3 separate regions of the Homo sapiens genome follow, and regions 2 and 3 are each linked to region 1. Evidence: fine-mapped expression QTL. A gene starts in region 1. Each other region holds a variant in brackets. All regions are shown on one strand. Distances are from middle to middle. Region 1 holds the start of KSR1 (kinase suppressor of ras 1). Region 2 overlaps KSR1 (kinase suppressor of ras 1). Region 3 overlaps KSR1 (kinase suppressor of ras 1).

The links. PIP is the estimated chance that this variant, and not a neighbour inherited with it, causes the effect. A credible set is the group of variants that fine-mapping cannot tell apart.
Region 2: its variant is the best candidate, but not a certain one, in a credible set for the expression of KSR1 in monocytes after Pam3CSK4 (Quach 2016, PIP 0.67).
Region 3: its variant is the best candidate, but not a certain one, in a credible set for the expression of KSR1 in fibroblasts (GTEx, PIP 0.76).

The regions. Positions count from the first base shown.
Region 1 is chr17:27,454,026-27,459,250 of GRCh38, reverse strand. It overlaps KSR1 (kinase suppressor of ras 1), which reads right to left and starts at 2,803. Exons shown (of 21, transcript NM_001394583.1): 1 at 2,377-2,803. The coding sequence starts at 2,607. RefSeq lists silencers at 1,944-1,993, 2,514-3,273 and an enhancer at 2,637-3,138.
Region 2 is chr17:27,538,238-27,543,462 of GRCh38, reverse strand. All of the region lies in intron 1 of KSR1 (kinase suppressor of ras 1), which reads right to left. LOC124903960 (a long non-coding RNA gene) reads left to right here. Exons shown (of 2, transcript XR_007065680.1): 2 at 1-3,664. Among named protein-coding and RNA genes, the nearest start is that of KSR1, 84 kb to the right of the region's middle. RefSeq lists enhancers at 1-156, 157-657, 2,467-3,266, 4,438-5,225. The variant T/C (reference allele first, on the strand shown) is at 2,796.
Region 3 is chr17:27,571,744-27,576,968 of GRCh38, reverse strand. All of the region lies in intron 2 of KSR1 (kinase suppressor of ras 1), which reads right to left. Among named protein-coding and RNA genes, the nearest start is that of LGALS9, 57 kb to the left of the region's middle. The variant T/C (reference allele first, on the strand shown) is at 2,937.

The DNA of each region.
Region 1 (5,225 bases):
GCACGGACTGACAGACAAAATGCTGCAGGTGTGAGCAGTCTCGTTCCTATTTTACAGACAGGAGAGCTTGAGATTCAGAAGTCATGGGACTTGCCTAAGGTCACACAGACAGAACCCAGGCCCAGTATGAAAGCCATGGGGCTTCCTATTCACCACGCTGCTCCTATGGCAAAGATTCTTCTAATAAACTTAACCCCTATGTTATGGGTTCAGTAAATCTGGATTTTAGAACCATTCTTAAAGAGGGTTATTCTTAAACCAGGGTAGTATAAAAACAATCACAAACATTTGATTTCACCCAACCAAGTCTCCTTCTCTAACCTAGAGAATTTCGAGCTTCCAGAGCCCTCAGAGATCCACTCCAGCCTCCTTGTTTTGCAGGTGAGGAGGCTGAGGCCTCCGGGATGAAGTGACTCATCTAAACTAGCTGGTGGCAGCCCCATGGAACTCACTCCAGGGGTCTAAATTCCCATCCCCCAAAACAACCCAGGCCCTGCCTTTTCAGGAAGTGGAGTGAACCCGAATCCACATCACGGTGGGAAGAACAGGGAGCTGCAGATCCCCTGTGGGCCTTTGGATGGGTTCTCTGCTGCCAGGGATGATCGTCTAAACAAACACTCAGGAGGGAAGCCACTGAATAAACCAGCTCCAACACTTAAATAGCTGGATGCTCTGGGGTGTCATGAACGCCACACTGCCATCAAAATGAGGGACTCCGGAAGTTAGGGTAGGACAAAAGGCCATTCCAGAGAATGCACAGCAAGTGGTTCTCCTATATACACACTCTGGAAGCCAGGAGCACTTCAGAGCAACGTGGGGACAATCCCACAGAGGCCAACACAGAGAGCATTCTCCAAGCCCAGCAACACCGAAGTCCAACCACGCACACTCTGCCAGACAGCGACCCCTCCTCCCGGAACTGAGCCTCACAGGCCCCCTATTGTTGTCAGCTTAAAAACTGAACTTTGCTGAGCAAACACACTCAGCTGTGTTCAAAAAATCAGTTTCTCTCAATACTTGGAAAACTGCAGCATGCATGCAGAAAGGCCAGTTGTAGGGGGTTTTGTTTGTTTTTTAAGCAAAGCCTTGGTCAGTACAGCTTTAGCCAACTGTAATAAAAAATAATAATACCCAGCACTGACTGTATTCTTCCAATGTCCTGTGGTTTTATAGCTTTTAAGAAAATAAAACTGAGGGAGAGTCACCCCCGAGCATTTGGAATCAAACAAGGATTCGGCTTTGTGGCATGCCTGGAGGAAGGATTGGTCTTGTAATAATTACCGCGATCACAGAGGGCCTTATGACAGCTGGCAGAGGCAATTAGCAATAAGGGGCGGGGGGAGGGTTTGGGGGAGGAGAAATTGAGGATCTAATAAAACAAAACATCCCCAGACCTGCAGGAGGCCAGATGTGGCAGGGCAAGATGGTGAGAGGTTCCTTCTTCAAGACGGGGCAGCTATTAACTGGTCTGACGTTTCACCGCCCCGTCCCTGGCCAAAATCACATTCAGAATCCACTAGTTGCCCTCATTTGTGTATGGACAGGGTGCCCCAACAACCCTCGGGCTGGTTTTTCCAAATCCTTCAGATACTTCCCCAGCTATAATTTGAGAGAGGAAGGCCCGCATATCTTATTTCTTCTTTACACTCCAGACTGTCTCCATCAGAACCCTTTAAACAGTTTCATCTTCCCACCAAAGGCTTGCTTCCCAGCATAATCCTTCCTAAGCCTAAATCCAATCTTTGGGGGGAAGCAGGGGGAGTCAGCGGGTAATTATTAATACATTTTAAGCAGCGAGCCTCCGTGGCAACGTGAAAGGAAAGCACCAAACGCCTGAATAACAAAAATGCAGTTTCAGCAACACTTTTTGAAAAGGCGGCAGACAAGACCTGAGAGGAGAGGAAAGGAAGGGACAGGACGGCGTCTGGGGCGTGAGGGGAACAGGGGACGGCAGGCCTGCGATCACGCTTCAGGGGAACCTCCTCCGTCACCCTGGCCCACGGGTGCTCGGCTCAGTCACACGGGGAAAAGTCCAGCTTGTGACTCGGTGGGACAACGAGTCCTGCGGCCCCGCAAACTGGAAATGGGGTGGGGGCGGAGAAGGGGGGAAAGGGGATGTCCGCGCGCAGCCCACCCCGCACGGGCCCCTCGAGCCTCCATCCCAGTTCCCACGACGCACCCGCCCCACAAATCCTGCCCAAGATGAGGGCTGGTCCCGGGTCCTCCGGCTGCCGCATCAGCGAGTGCAGGAGGGAGGGGAAGCCTCCAAGGGGGGCGACGCGGGCTCAAGGATGCAACTCGGCCAGGAGTACTGGGGCCCGGAGGGAGGTGTCCGGGCCCGCTCCTCGAGCCCAGCCTGGTCCCCGACCCACTTACCTCCAGGGTCCGTATCTCCTGCTGGGTGAGGTCGTTGGACACAGCGCACTTGGTGCGCAGCCCGCGCAGGCTGCCGATGGAGATGTCGATGAGCTTCTGGAGCTGCCCGCACTGCTGCAGCGCCCGGCTGGCCGCGGCCCCTGCGCCTCCCTCCGCGGCCGCCGCATCCCCCCCGCCACCGCCCTCCTTCTTCTCTCCCATCGCCGCCGCGCGCAGCGCTGCTCTATCCATGCCTCGGCATCGGGGCCGCGGCGGCCGAGGCTGGGAGCCCGGGGCGCGGGCGCCTCGGCAAGGAACCCCCGAGCCAGGAGAGCTGGACCAGGAGCGCCCCTCGGCGCTGCCCGAGCCGGGACGCCGGTAGAGCCGGCCGCTGAGTCTGCCGCTTCCACCCTCCCAGCCGCGGCAGCAAAGCGAAAGCCGCGGCGACCCGACGGCTGCGGCTCCCGGAGCCTTTAAGCGGCGGCGGGGGCTGGGTCAGGGCGGCCGGGCATGCTGGGACTTGTAGTCCACGCCGCGCACCTGCCGCCGGCCTCCGCCCTCGGGGCCCCGGACCGCGCCCGCGCCGCCCTCCCTGCCCTCCTCTCCCCTCCCCTCCCGGCGGCCGCGGCGAGGCAGGCGGTGAGGGCCGGCCCCAACCGGGAGCCCCGGGTGGAGCTGCTCCGCGCCAGCTCCTCCCCCAGGCGCCGAGAGTCGGGGGAGCAGCGTCTCCCCGTCCGCCTCCGTCCCCCACCCGGCCTAGGAGCTTCCCGCGACCCCCGGATGGGGCGGCGCCCCCTGGACGCCCGGCGGGTGTGCGTCCCGCAGTTCCTCAGCTGCAGCCCAGCCCTGGAAGATGGGGACCAGGGAGGTTCCAGGATTTGTATGTGGGTTTAGGGGCTGCCATCTAGTGGGAAGGGGCTTACAGCACTTCTGTAGCTGGCTCACAAAGCGCTCTACTCTGGACTGCCTGCGCCAAAACGATTGCTCAGGCTTGGAGAAAGACGAAGAGCTTTCTTCTGAACCACATTTACCTGCCAAAATAAGTGTCCCATTCCCCCGCCATTCCCAGCCCACCAAGCCAGCCCAGACACGGGGGACAGCACACTGAATTGTCGGTGGCTTCGGAGCAAGTGGCCAGGATTCAAATTCTGACTCCACCACGGTCTAGGGTGAGACTTTGGGCACGTTCGATTTCCAGTGAATGCCCGACTCTCCTCATCAAATAACTCTTTAATAGGGTTCCTATGAAGAATCAGTTAATACATGTACAGCACCTAGATTGATTACTGGCACATGTGGTCGCTGGATAAATGTTAGCAATTCTTACTATCTAACCTCAGATCTGAATGTGGCCCTGGACCCAGGTAGTGGCCATGGAGCAGTACAGTACTGCCAAGGACTGGTAGTCCTTTGTCCTCTGTGCATTTCTGTGCCTCCTAACCCAGCAATCAAGCCTTGCCCATCTGTTCACCCTCCTCTCCCATTAGTTCACCCCATGCGTTCTATTATCTGGCAAAACTGAAAAACCAAGTCTCTGATCAAAGCTCCCACACCTTCATGCTTTCGACATCTGTCAACCAGAAAAAATGTCTCCCCTCTCAATTTTCTCTTGTAAGCTGCTTGATTGCAGAAGCCACTAGCTATTGTACCCTCTTTATAGTGCCAGATACAGTGCATGGCACACAAGAAAGGCTCCAGCGTGCCTCAGGAGCTCTTTCAGCAGGTCCTATGGGATGTTTCTTTTACCTCTCAGGCCAGCCGAGGGTGTGTGTGTGTGTGTAGATAGACAGTTGTTTTTTTGGTTTTGTTTTTGTGTTTGAGGATGAGAATTGGACAGGAGGTGGGATCCAAACCTTGTAGACACTAAAACAATCAATAATGGATGGCAGTTTGTATTACACCTTCCTTTAATGTTTATATTACACCAGCCTTCGAAATAAATTAAGGGCTGGGCACCGTGGCTCATGCCTGTAATGCCAGCACTTTTGAGAGGCCAAGGGGGAAGGATCACTTAAAGCCAGGAGTTCGAGACCAGCCTGGGCAATGTGACAAGACCCTGTCTCTAAAAAAAATAATAAATTTTTAAAAATCAGGTCTAGGAAGCAAAACTATAACTTTAAAACTTGTTTTTGCAAATTAACCCCTCCTCGAGATTTTCCAAATGCAAGGAGGTTCCTCCCTAACCCCTGGCCTTTCCCATTGAGAGTCATTGATCCAGTCCTCACTCAACTTATAAAAAGACCGCCTGCACGATATTATGAATTTCTCAACCTGTTACCTTAACCCCATCCGACTCCTTGCAAAGTAGTAACTATTATGAAAGGGAAACTAGTTGTGGTTCTCAAACTTGAACATGCATCAGAATCACTTGGAGGGCTTGTTAATTCCCAGAACCATGGAGCTCACCTCTATAGTTTCTAATTTTGTAGATCAGAGGACAGGGCAGGAGAATCTGCATTTCTATCAGGTTCTCAGGTGGTACTGATGTGGTTAGTCTGAGCCCAGTCGCAAGTCTATACTTTGAGAAGCCTAGGCACAGAGGAAGGTCAGTGGGCAGAGAACTATCTCAAGGGACTATCCACAACCCAACCTGGCTGGTTCAGAGCCTCTGTCCAGCAGCCAGAGCTGCCAGGCTTGAACGACTCACTCATTCTAACACAATTCACAAAAGATTTTTTTTTTTTTGAAACAGGGTCTTGCTCTGTCACTCAGGCTGGAGTACAGTAGCATGATCATGGCTCAGTGCAGCCTCGACCTCCCAGACTCAGGCGATCCTCCCACCCCAGCTTCCCAAGTAGCTGGGACTATAGGAGTGTGCCACCATGCCCGGCTAACGTTAACTTTTTTTTTTTTTTCCTTTTTTTTAGAAA
Region 2 (5,225 bases), 84 kb before region 1:
AGGGATCCCCAGGAACATGGAGGCCTCACACCCCTACCCTGCAGGTCCCTTCCTTGTCATCCTTCCTTTACACTGCGCCCCAACCTGCCTCTCCATAGCTGGTGCCCCATAGCATGGGTCCTGGGCCCATCCTCCATGGTGTGTCATGGCTGTCCCAGGCAACCTACCCATGGGCCAGTCTGATTTGGGAGGCTGGGTTCCTCTGTGGCCACAGAACCAACCATCCCTTGGAGGCTGCCACAGTGGAGCTGGAGCAATAGCTGCCTTGCCTCTAAAAGCAAGACCATTTAGCACCAGCTAAAATGGCAGTCTAGACAGAGAGCTCCCACGGGCGGCTTCCACAGGGTGTGTGGACAGGGACAGGCCAGCCATTGTGCTGGACTGGCTGGAAGTGCAGCAGTGACAGGCAGATGAGCCACGCCTCCTGTTTACCACCAGCACCTGTTCTGACTGGTCAGAGGTCATGCCTACCATTAGTTAGTGGTCCCATCTCCTCTGCGAGAAGCTTGGGTTTGGCAGCCAGGAGGCTCTACCCCTCGCACCATCACACATCAGCTGTGTGGCAGGATCTAGATCATATCATCTTAGTCTCCTTCTCTGTAAAGCAGAGAAAATATAATACATGCCCCATAGCACTGCTGAGAATTTGCTGCAGACTCATGTATGCAAAGTGTTTAGTCCAATGTCCAGAACATATAAAGTGCTCACTAAATAGAACTCTGTTAGTGTTACTCCTGCTCAGCCTGCAGAATGACCTCGAAAAGGAGGAGCATGAAGACTTTTGGCAGGTGCCGTTTGGATTATACCCCACCCAGGCTTTTTTGCACCTTTGCAAAAAACACCTCTTTCCAGACGACTGACTTTGCAAACAAAGTCAGCTCCACCCTAAAATTGCAGGGCCTGAGATGGGGAGATCTCTTCTGTGGGCAACTCTCAAACCCATGATCTTGGCTATGTTAGCAGCCAGATGCCAAGGCCTATTATAGGTTGTCACCCTAACCCTGACTTTGGTCGTTGGCTGCCACAGGACCCTCTCAGTGGCCCAGATCTTCATGTCTCAGAAGCAGGGCAGGGGGTTAAATCTGTTGTGACAGATGTCACAGATGTTAACATATAAATGAGTAAATGAATCCAAGGCACAGGCTAACATGGACACCAGTTTCCCATGTATAGTAGCAGGCTCCCTCAGTTACAGAATCATGTCAATACTCATTTGTCAACCTAGTAGTGTTAACAATCTTTTCCTTATGTATGGTACCATATCACTTCCTCTACCTGGATTGTCAGTGAAAATTTCAGAGGCTAGGAATTAGAGTAGATCCCTGATAGCACAAGGGTGACTGATGTCCCAATCTTCACACACAAACCCAAAGCTGGCAATGTCCCTAAAGCACATCATTCCCTCCACAAAATACAATCATGTGTAACTGAAAATACTACAGACCCTTCCAGACTTCTGATGGGATGTACTGTGTATTCAACATTGAGTAAAGAAAAACAAAGCTACATCGGGATGTGGGTGCTGGACAGCACACTGGGCTCACTCACTGGCTCAGGGATGCTCACCTGCATGCCTGCCATCGAGTCCAGCCTCAGCCAAATGACAAGTCACTGCTCATCCTTTGCCGTCACTCACAAATCATGAAACCTCTCATGTGAAACCCACAAGACTTAAAGGTGTACTTCATCATTCCCATCTTACAATGAAGAAACCAAGGCACCAGCCTTTGTAACTTTCTTGAATCCTGTGGTTAAAGAAGGGATTCCAACCTCAATCTAATGCTCTCTATGCACCTCTCAAAATAATGACTCCTGCAACCCACACCCTAAGCTGTCTTGACTGGTACAAGCAGGATGGCAGTGGGCAGGGTCTACCTCTTTTGCGATCCAAAGCCCAAAATCCAGCCACGCCTAGACTGTTCCAGGCAGTGAATCCTGTGAATAAGAGCCACAGGCTTGCCCACACCCTCTAAATGTATCCAGCCACCCAACTGGGCCACCACCTCTGGTCCTGACTTGCAATAACCTACCCTCTGGGCTGTACCCCACCCCTGGCTCTAAGCCAGCATTAAATTCATTAAAACTAGCCATCATGCTGCCTATAACCTGAGGCCATCCCTTTTAAGAAGATCCTAGTATGCTTTACAGAGTGACACGAAGTAACTGGACAGCCACTCCATTCGTCCATCACTTGCCTCTTGTTTTATTTAGTCCTCCTGTGGCAGGTGCAGTTGTGGACCAGCTTCCAGCTCACCAGCACCCACAAGACCCTGACTCCTTTCTCCTCAGTAGGCAGCACCAGACTCTTACGTGGTGCCCACAGCAGTCTTTGCTCCTGCCAAGTCCCTGACTATACCATCCCGAACTTCAGGATGCCACCAAAGCCCTGGCAACTTACTCCAGCCTTCATTCCAGTGGTCCCTGAAGCTGCTGCTCCTCCTCCACTATTGACCCATTCTGTCCATGCCTCGGGGAAGCTCCCCTTACATCTTCCACTTCCTTCCCAAAGCTGGAGTGCATTTCTGGGGACTTCCCACCAACCCAGCCAGCTAAGCAGTCTAGCCTGGCTGCCATGGCCAACTTGTTGCAAAATGATTTCTGAGAATGTAAGGAGGCCTCTGGAGGTTGTGATGCAGCTGACAGTTCCACGCACAGGCACGCAGCGACCATAGCACCCAGCTCCGAGGGGACCAGAGGCAGCCCCTTGGCTCCCAGCACTGCCCAGCCCTCAAGGGCGCCCACGGGGGCTGACATTCATGGGCATGGGACAGAGCAGGAGAGGCACACAGGGAAAG[T/C]GGGGCAAGGAGAGGAGAAAGTACAAGTGACCTCAATCCTTGAGCTGGGCATTTCGCAACAGCCAGCCCTCTCCCGGCCCGGCCCATACCCGCACTCTCCTGGGGAAGCTGCCAGGCTTTTACATTTGTGTAGAGACAACCTCCCCGCCAAGCCTCCCACTAGCAATCCTGCCTTGACGTCAAACTCAGAGTCGGGGAACTTCAAACACAAACAAACAAGTCTAACCCAGACCACAAGTGGAGATATTCCCAAGGAGGCCAGGGGTGAGAACGGCCACAGCTGGGAGCTCAGGGCCTCCTACCCTTCCCTATGCTCCACTGGGAATGCAAAGTCTGAGGACCTGACAACAGACTGTAGATGGGAGATTCAACCCCAGGCTGAGACAAAACGAGCTCACTTGTCTAAGAGTATGACTGACTGCCTTTGGCTGGTGCAGCAGTGGGTGCAGGAGACCCTGTATGGAAGCACTGATGAGTTAGCTCCTCTGTGCAACTAAGCACCCACCTTAGATAAATCACATAAATCACCTGTTCCCACTGCTCCAGTACTAAGCATGAGCAGTCAGGGAAAGAAGACTATGAGGTCAACTATGGTTTAAAAGCACCCATGATGCTTCCTGGGAAATGCAAAGCTTGAGCTGGGCCAGAGTGAATGGCCAAGGGCCCGAGTTTTCTCAGCAACAACTGCTAGGCCATTTTATGTGCCACGGAGGTTGTGAGATGCAGCAGAACCAAAGAGGAAGGCATTTCCCTGACCTAACAGCCTAATACAGCTCCCACCTGCAAAGCCAAGGTGAGTCAAAACACTGCTCTTCAGAAAGCAATTATTTGAAAAGTCAGTAAATGATCTGTCTTGATCTGCCTTTCAAGTTTTCCTTCCTGCCTCAATTGATGTAACCCCCCAATATCTCATGTGTTGTTAGTACCAGCAGTCCTTAGGGGCTGTGGGGACCAACAGGACTAAATCATGAGAAAGAAAGACACCCACTTTACCCCCTAACTCCCCTGTGCCTGAAGCAATTGAATAACGGCAACAAAGGACTTCTGACCATCATCCAGTCATTCAACAACCAAACCTCTTCCCAATGCCCGGCACCGTTGGACTCCAAGGACAACGGTCGTAAGCGGCAGGGGTCCATAATTTTCAGGAACCCACACAAGTTGGGGGAACAGATGTGTCCGCACAGACACCTGACCGAGGGCTAGGAAAGGCAAAGCAACAGACAGCAGGTCTAAGCGTCCATGACACAGCAGCCCTGCTGCTCGGTGCTTCTGCTGGGAGGCTGAGGGAAGTGCTGGCCCAGGTGTCAGGAGCCACAGGTGTGGTGTTGCTCACAGACCAGATACTTCATCAACACGGCCTGTGTCCCAGTTCAAACACACACTCCATGTGTTTGTCTGAAGGTCACCAGGCCCACAGGGCACAGCCACGAACTAGTTTACCCCCTCAGCTCAACCCCTCAATCACAACAGGTAATCCTGGAGTATTCCTGACATTGCCAACTGAAAGGCACCTGGGTGTGAATTACCAAGCAGGGGCCTAGTGAAAAAGGCAGAGGCTGCACCTAATGGCAAAAGTAGATTTCTGCCAATGGGCCAAACCCCTTACCTATCCTTAAGGCCTGTTCCCTAGGGAGACTCTGGAAGGGAGGGATGGGGAAGGCAAGGCACCTTAAACTCTGACCTATATGCACCAACTATGAGAAGGAGACTGTGCCCAATGCTGGAAAGATAGAGGGCTTTCTTTCCAGGGATGTGACTGTTGGCTTAGCAACTCAGGCCATCACAGAAAAGGACAAAGGGCTGGACAGGGGCAAGGGGCAATGACAGATGAGTGCCCCAGACACCAGGGATCAATGAATGCATTGTGAACTCCCCCAGAAGGATGAGGGGCGCCCGAACCGCCACACCCTGTGGAGCACCATGCTCAGACTGCTCATCTCCACCTAATATCAGCTCCCAGCTTCTCCCTTGCCCACAGGACCCAGTTTTGTTCAGGGTAGCACTGTGCCCAGTGATGAACTGGTCTCAGTCAGTGGCTCGCAGCCCAGTCTTCACATCACAACCCACGAGCCTTGGCTTCAGCGAGTGTGACATAATTGATCCGGAATGGGGTCCCTGCACAGCCATCATGATGATTCAGTCCCCACTTTCAGCTTCCCTTGAAGCTGGTTACCTGTGACAGTTTTGGCTAATGAGGCATGAGGACTTGCTTGCTAGGGGACCTGCTGGGAAAGCATGGGACAGATCTTGGGGCTGCCCAACACCTCCTGCCCATTTTGAAAACAGACAAGCTGCAGTGGCCATCTCGCAACCACAAGGATGGCAAGAGCTGCCTGGAAAACCAGAGACAGTATCCCTGTTCAGCTGCAAAACCAGCACACGTGTGCCACCTAACTCCAGACTCATTGTAGGAGAAACATAATGGCC
Region 3 (5,225 bases), 120 kb before region 1:
ACAGATGAAGAAAGAGGCTCAGAGAGATTATGTCACCTGCACGAGGTCACTAGGCCATACGGTGAAGAAAGTGGCAGGCAGAATTTTAAGGTGGTCTTGTGACCTTTGTCCCCTGGTGTTGCTCCTGATCTTGTTACATTACAGAAGTCTCCCTCTTATCTGCAGTTTCAGTTACCAGCAGCCAACCATAGCCTAAAACTATTAAATGGAAAATGCCAGAAACATTCCAGAAATAAACAATTTATAGTTTTAAACTATGCACCATTCTGAGTAATGTGATGAAATCTTGCGCCATCCAGCTCCATCCCACCGGAGACGTGAATTGTCCCTTTGTCCAGCGTCTCCACACTGTCTCCACTCCCGGCCTGTTTGTCACTTAGTAGCTATCTTGGTTATCAGATCAACTGCCACGACCTCTCCCCACATAGGCACTTTATCATCTCACAGCATCACAAGATGAGGGGTGAGAACAGTACAGTAAGATATTTTGAGAGAGAGAAGAGAGACCACATTCCTGTAACTTTCATTATAGTGTATTGTTATAATTGCTCTATTTTGTTATTGTTGATTATTAATCTCTTACTGTGCCCAACTTACTAACTTTATCAGAGGTATGTATGTATAGGAAAAAACACAGTATACATCATATATATATATATTCAGTACTATCCATGGTTTCAGGCATCCACTGAGGGTCCTGGAACATATCCCCTACAGAAAAGGGGGTATTACTATATACAGCAAAAGGGAAATTATCCAAGTAGGCTTCATCCAATCACAAGAGCCCTTTAAAAGCAAAGGGTTCTCTTGAGCTGGTAACAGAGAAGTCAAGAGACCTGAAGCGTGAAAAGCAGACTTTGAAGGAGGAGGGGAATGGGGGTGGCCTCTGGGAAAAAAAGTAGCCCCTGGCTGACAGCCATTGAGGGAATGAGGACCTCAGACCTCCAGCCACAAGGAAATGGATTCTGCCAATAACCTGAATGAACGTGAAGTGGATTCTTCTCCAGAACTTCCAGGTAAGAGGAAGGCCTGGCCTACACCTTGACCTCAGCCTTGTGAGATCCCAAGTAGGGATATAAGCAGAGCCTGAGTGGATTCCTCCACCTAGAGAACCATGAGATGATAAGCGGGTGGTGTGTTAAGCTGCTAAATTTGTTATGAAGCAATGGAAAATACAAAGAATGAATGGTAGAATCAAGGCTCAGTGGACTTCAAAACTTGTGCCCTTTCCTCTCATCAGGGAGGGAGGAAACCTCTCCAGCTCTGACTACTTTGAGCCACATGACACTGTCAGAGGCACTGGAACCAGAGCCATTCCATCTTGAATAGGGGCTGGGTAAAATGAGGGTGAGACCTGCTGTGCTGCATCCCCAGGAAGTCAGGCATTCTTAATCATAGGGTGAGAGAGAAGGTCACAAGATACAGGTCACAAAGACCCCATGATAAAACAGGATGAGCTAAAGAAGCCAGCCAAAACCCACCAAAACCAAGATGGTATCCCAAGTGACCTCTGGTCTTCCTCACTGCTCATTATATGCTCATTATAATGCATTAGCATGCTAAAAGACACTCCCACCGGCACCATGACAGTCTACAAATGCCATGGCAATGCCCAGAAGTTACCCTATATGGTCTAAAGAGGGGGAGGGGCCCTCAGTTCCAGGAATTGCCTGCCCCTTTCCCAGAAAATTCACAAATAATCTACCCCAGTTTAGCATATGGTCAAGAAATAACCATGAAAATAGCTAACTAGCAGCCCTCAGGGCTGCTCTGCCTACGGGGTTGCTATTCTTTTGTTTCTCCACTTCTCTAATAAACTTGCCTTCATTTTATTCTGTGGACTCACCCAGGATTCTTTTTTGTGCAAGACTCAAGAACCCTCTTTTGGGATCCAGAATGGGACCCCTATATCCAGCAACAATACCAAACCTGGGACAAATATAAAAAACCAATGGGACATGCCTCTGGTCTCAAGTGGCCTACAGCCCAGTGGGAGGAGTGACAGACATTTAAACAGGTAACTACAATGCAGTAAGATGCGCACTAGAGCAGAGAGAGTTCAAAGAGCTATGGGACCAGATCAGACCTTTTTTTGTCTTTAACCCTTTCTATATTTTCCAGATTTTCTGTAACAGAGAAGGCCAGACATTCCACATCAAATGACTGCTATAAAGCTCACAGTTCTTGAGAATCTAAGCCAATCCTGATTTTTAGCAAGTTGTGTCTAATTTTACTTTTAAGGACTAATTTCATTGTCATTCCATTTACATGCTGTAATTCCTTGTCTCAAGCGTCAAAACTAACCCTAATGAAGATACTGGCTGAGTCCTGAAGGTATGAGGCCCAACCCATACCCCTCTCTCCCATAGCAAGGCTGGAGCTAGATGCCTGCCTTTCTGTATTTGTTTGTTTTTTACTGTACCCGCTGACGGCAGATGCTTTTGTAGCTTTTCAGTATATTCTTCAATCTTCAGGGCTGTAGGCAAGAATCACATCACCACTTAGCATGATCACACCAAAATAAAGCCAGACACATAACTGTACCAAGAAGCTCATCACTGGTTGGCCAAAACCCTGGTTGCCTTCCAGAAGATAAAACTAAAGTGTCACAGGAACCACTGATGAGAACGGCACCAGCAGGGGAGGCAGATTAGACAAATGGTGCCATGCAGAAGCTTCTATACAATCAACATGTCTTGCTTTCTTTCCCTTAGCCTGTCTTCCACTGAAATGAGGTTTGGATATCTTTGCCCTCATTTGACTGTTAAGAGCACCTTGGCGATACCGTCAGGGTAAGCACAAGAGCAACCTTCACCTTATCTGAACAAAGCAATCCTCTACTTGTCCGGAAGGGTGTCCTCAGTTTGTCTCTCCACCACATACTCCAAGGCTGTGATGACTCAGCAGTTTGCCCAGATGATGATAGAGATGTTTAA[T/C]GGGGCTGGGGAGGGAGCCAGGCTGAGGAAACCCAATCTTCAACCTAACTATAATGCAAATAGGGATTCTTTTTCTTTCTTTTTATTCATCTCCTCCTCACCCATACCAAGTTTCAAGTTCTCAAAGTAACTACATTTATTATTACAAACTATTTGCCAGAACAATATGCCTAGGGCTTTGTATACATTATTTTATCTTTAATCAACTCCGCAAGTAGATGGAGTTAAGTCCATCTTACTGAGGCTCAGAGACTTCACAGCTTAACAAGTGGCTGAGCAGAATTGAAACCCACGTGCGCACGATTCCAAACCTCCTCCAAATATTCCATGCTGTCCACTTGTTAACCTGGCAAAGCCTTGGGATACAGCAGCTACCTTTCAGGGGAAATTATTTTTTTCGAAGTAAATTAATTTCTACCTACTTTCAGAAAATAGAAGTGAGGTACAGAAACAGCTGGATTGGTTACAGCTCCTTTGCCTTATTTGAACAAGATTCGAACAGTTGGCTACATTTGATTGGCACAAGTGCAGTCTACAGTGTTTTTATACCTCCACTTGTTATAGTTCATGATATACAGAAAAACCTTTAGGCTGAACTTAAAATATCTAAGGAGGTAGCTCTAGGCTAAACTTGATTTAACACACTTCTCTGCCTTTTTACTGAACAAGAAACCCAACGGCAGCAATGGCAATGCTAAACAGAAAACCCCCGCTTTCCTCCCTTGGTGTTGGGGAAAGGGGCAGGCAATGGAGGGGCACCAGAACTTCTGGTTTTAAAGAAATCTGAATTTTTATTTTTAAATGGCTGGCTTTTACATGGTGATAACTAATTCAAATCTGTGCAAACAAAACAAATTATGTCCATGAGGAACATGGGGCTTCCAGGCCTAAGCGCGGAGACCCCATGGGAAGAATCTGATGCCTTCCAAGGTTAATCTGATCAGTGAGTGACATCTAAAACTTTATTTCTGTAGGCAAACGGGGGAGGATGCAGGCCCAGTAGCAAGTACTCCAGGGGACCAGGCTTTCTCAGTGAGGGGCCCACCCTGGAAACAAAGTGCCCCACCTCCCAACTCTACAACTGACTCTGAGACCCAATGTTAACTTAATCAAGAAAGGAAAGCTACCAGGACGGTCGCGTGGCTGTGAAGGCCCCTGCGAGGGGCCCTGATATCTCCCAGTATCATGACTCAACAGTGCCCCAAAGCAACTCAGCACCCCCGAAACCTCACACATGGATGTGACTCGCCCACCCACAGTGACAGGCACAGCCAAGTCTGATTTAGGAAGATGTTTTCAAAGCAGAGTAACTCACAACTTTCCTGGATCATCTCTAAACCAAAAACAAATTAGGGAATCAGTTTTGCCACCTGCTGAAGGTGAACTCGCAGGTGAAGCCACTCTGAAACCTTCTCAGGTCTGAGAGGCTCCAGTGCCCCAGGAGGGCATCCCATCTGCCAGGAGGTGCCCAGAAGATGCTAAGTTGTCTCAAAGCCAAGGGCAAAAGGCCCCTCTCTCTGCCCATACCCCAAAGTTCTGGAGAACCCGGCTGGGAGTCCGTACTGCCTCCAAGGAATTACTGCCCACCCCAGCTTCTGTCTAAAGAACAAAATATGGAACTACAAACCAAAAACGGAAGACATGGATGCCCAGACCATCATAGGAGATGCCCAATCCATCTTGAGAGATGCCCAGTCCCAGCTCCGACAAGTCTCAGGGTTAGCATGGGTGCACACAGGTGGGGATGCAGGAATGAGGAGCAGAGTGACAGCATCAGAGATCATTGGCTCCCTGCCTCTGCCTGTCTCTCTCAAACCAGGAGATATGTTCTCCAGTAGGTGGGATTAAGTTATTCTTTCTGATAATAATTGGAGAGCAGGGCCAGTTGAGTGCTGAGGTCACTCCCAGTCTGTGACAATCCAGTCATGTCATTAGCAGGAGACTGCTGGTCTCCATTCTCTCCAGTGGAGGGTGAGGATGGGTTTGGGCAACGTGCTACCCCCTCCCCCAGCAGCTGGCAGAGGCTGGCGTCACAGGCCATGCTGGGTAAGCCGGCAGCTCAGGGCCAGTTAGGTATCAAATGGTATCCAGGGATTTACTAGCAGCCACGGGGCTGCCTGGGGTCTATACTTAGAAACCTGGGCCTGCTGACACTGAGAGGCGCCACACTCCCTGTGGCCAGTCAGGTGGACCAGGAAAATGCCAGGGGCGGCACCGCTGCTGTACCGGCCACGTATACAAACACACTGCACTTCACGCAAGAACACGGGTGAAAGCTGGGTTGAAGGA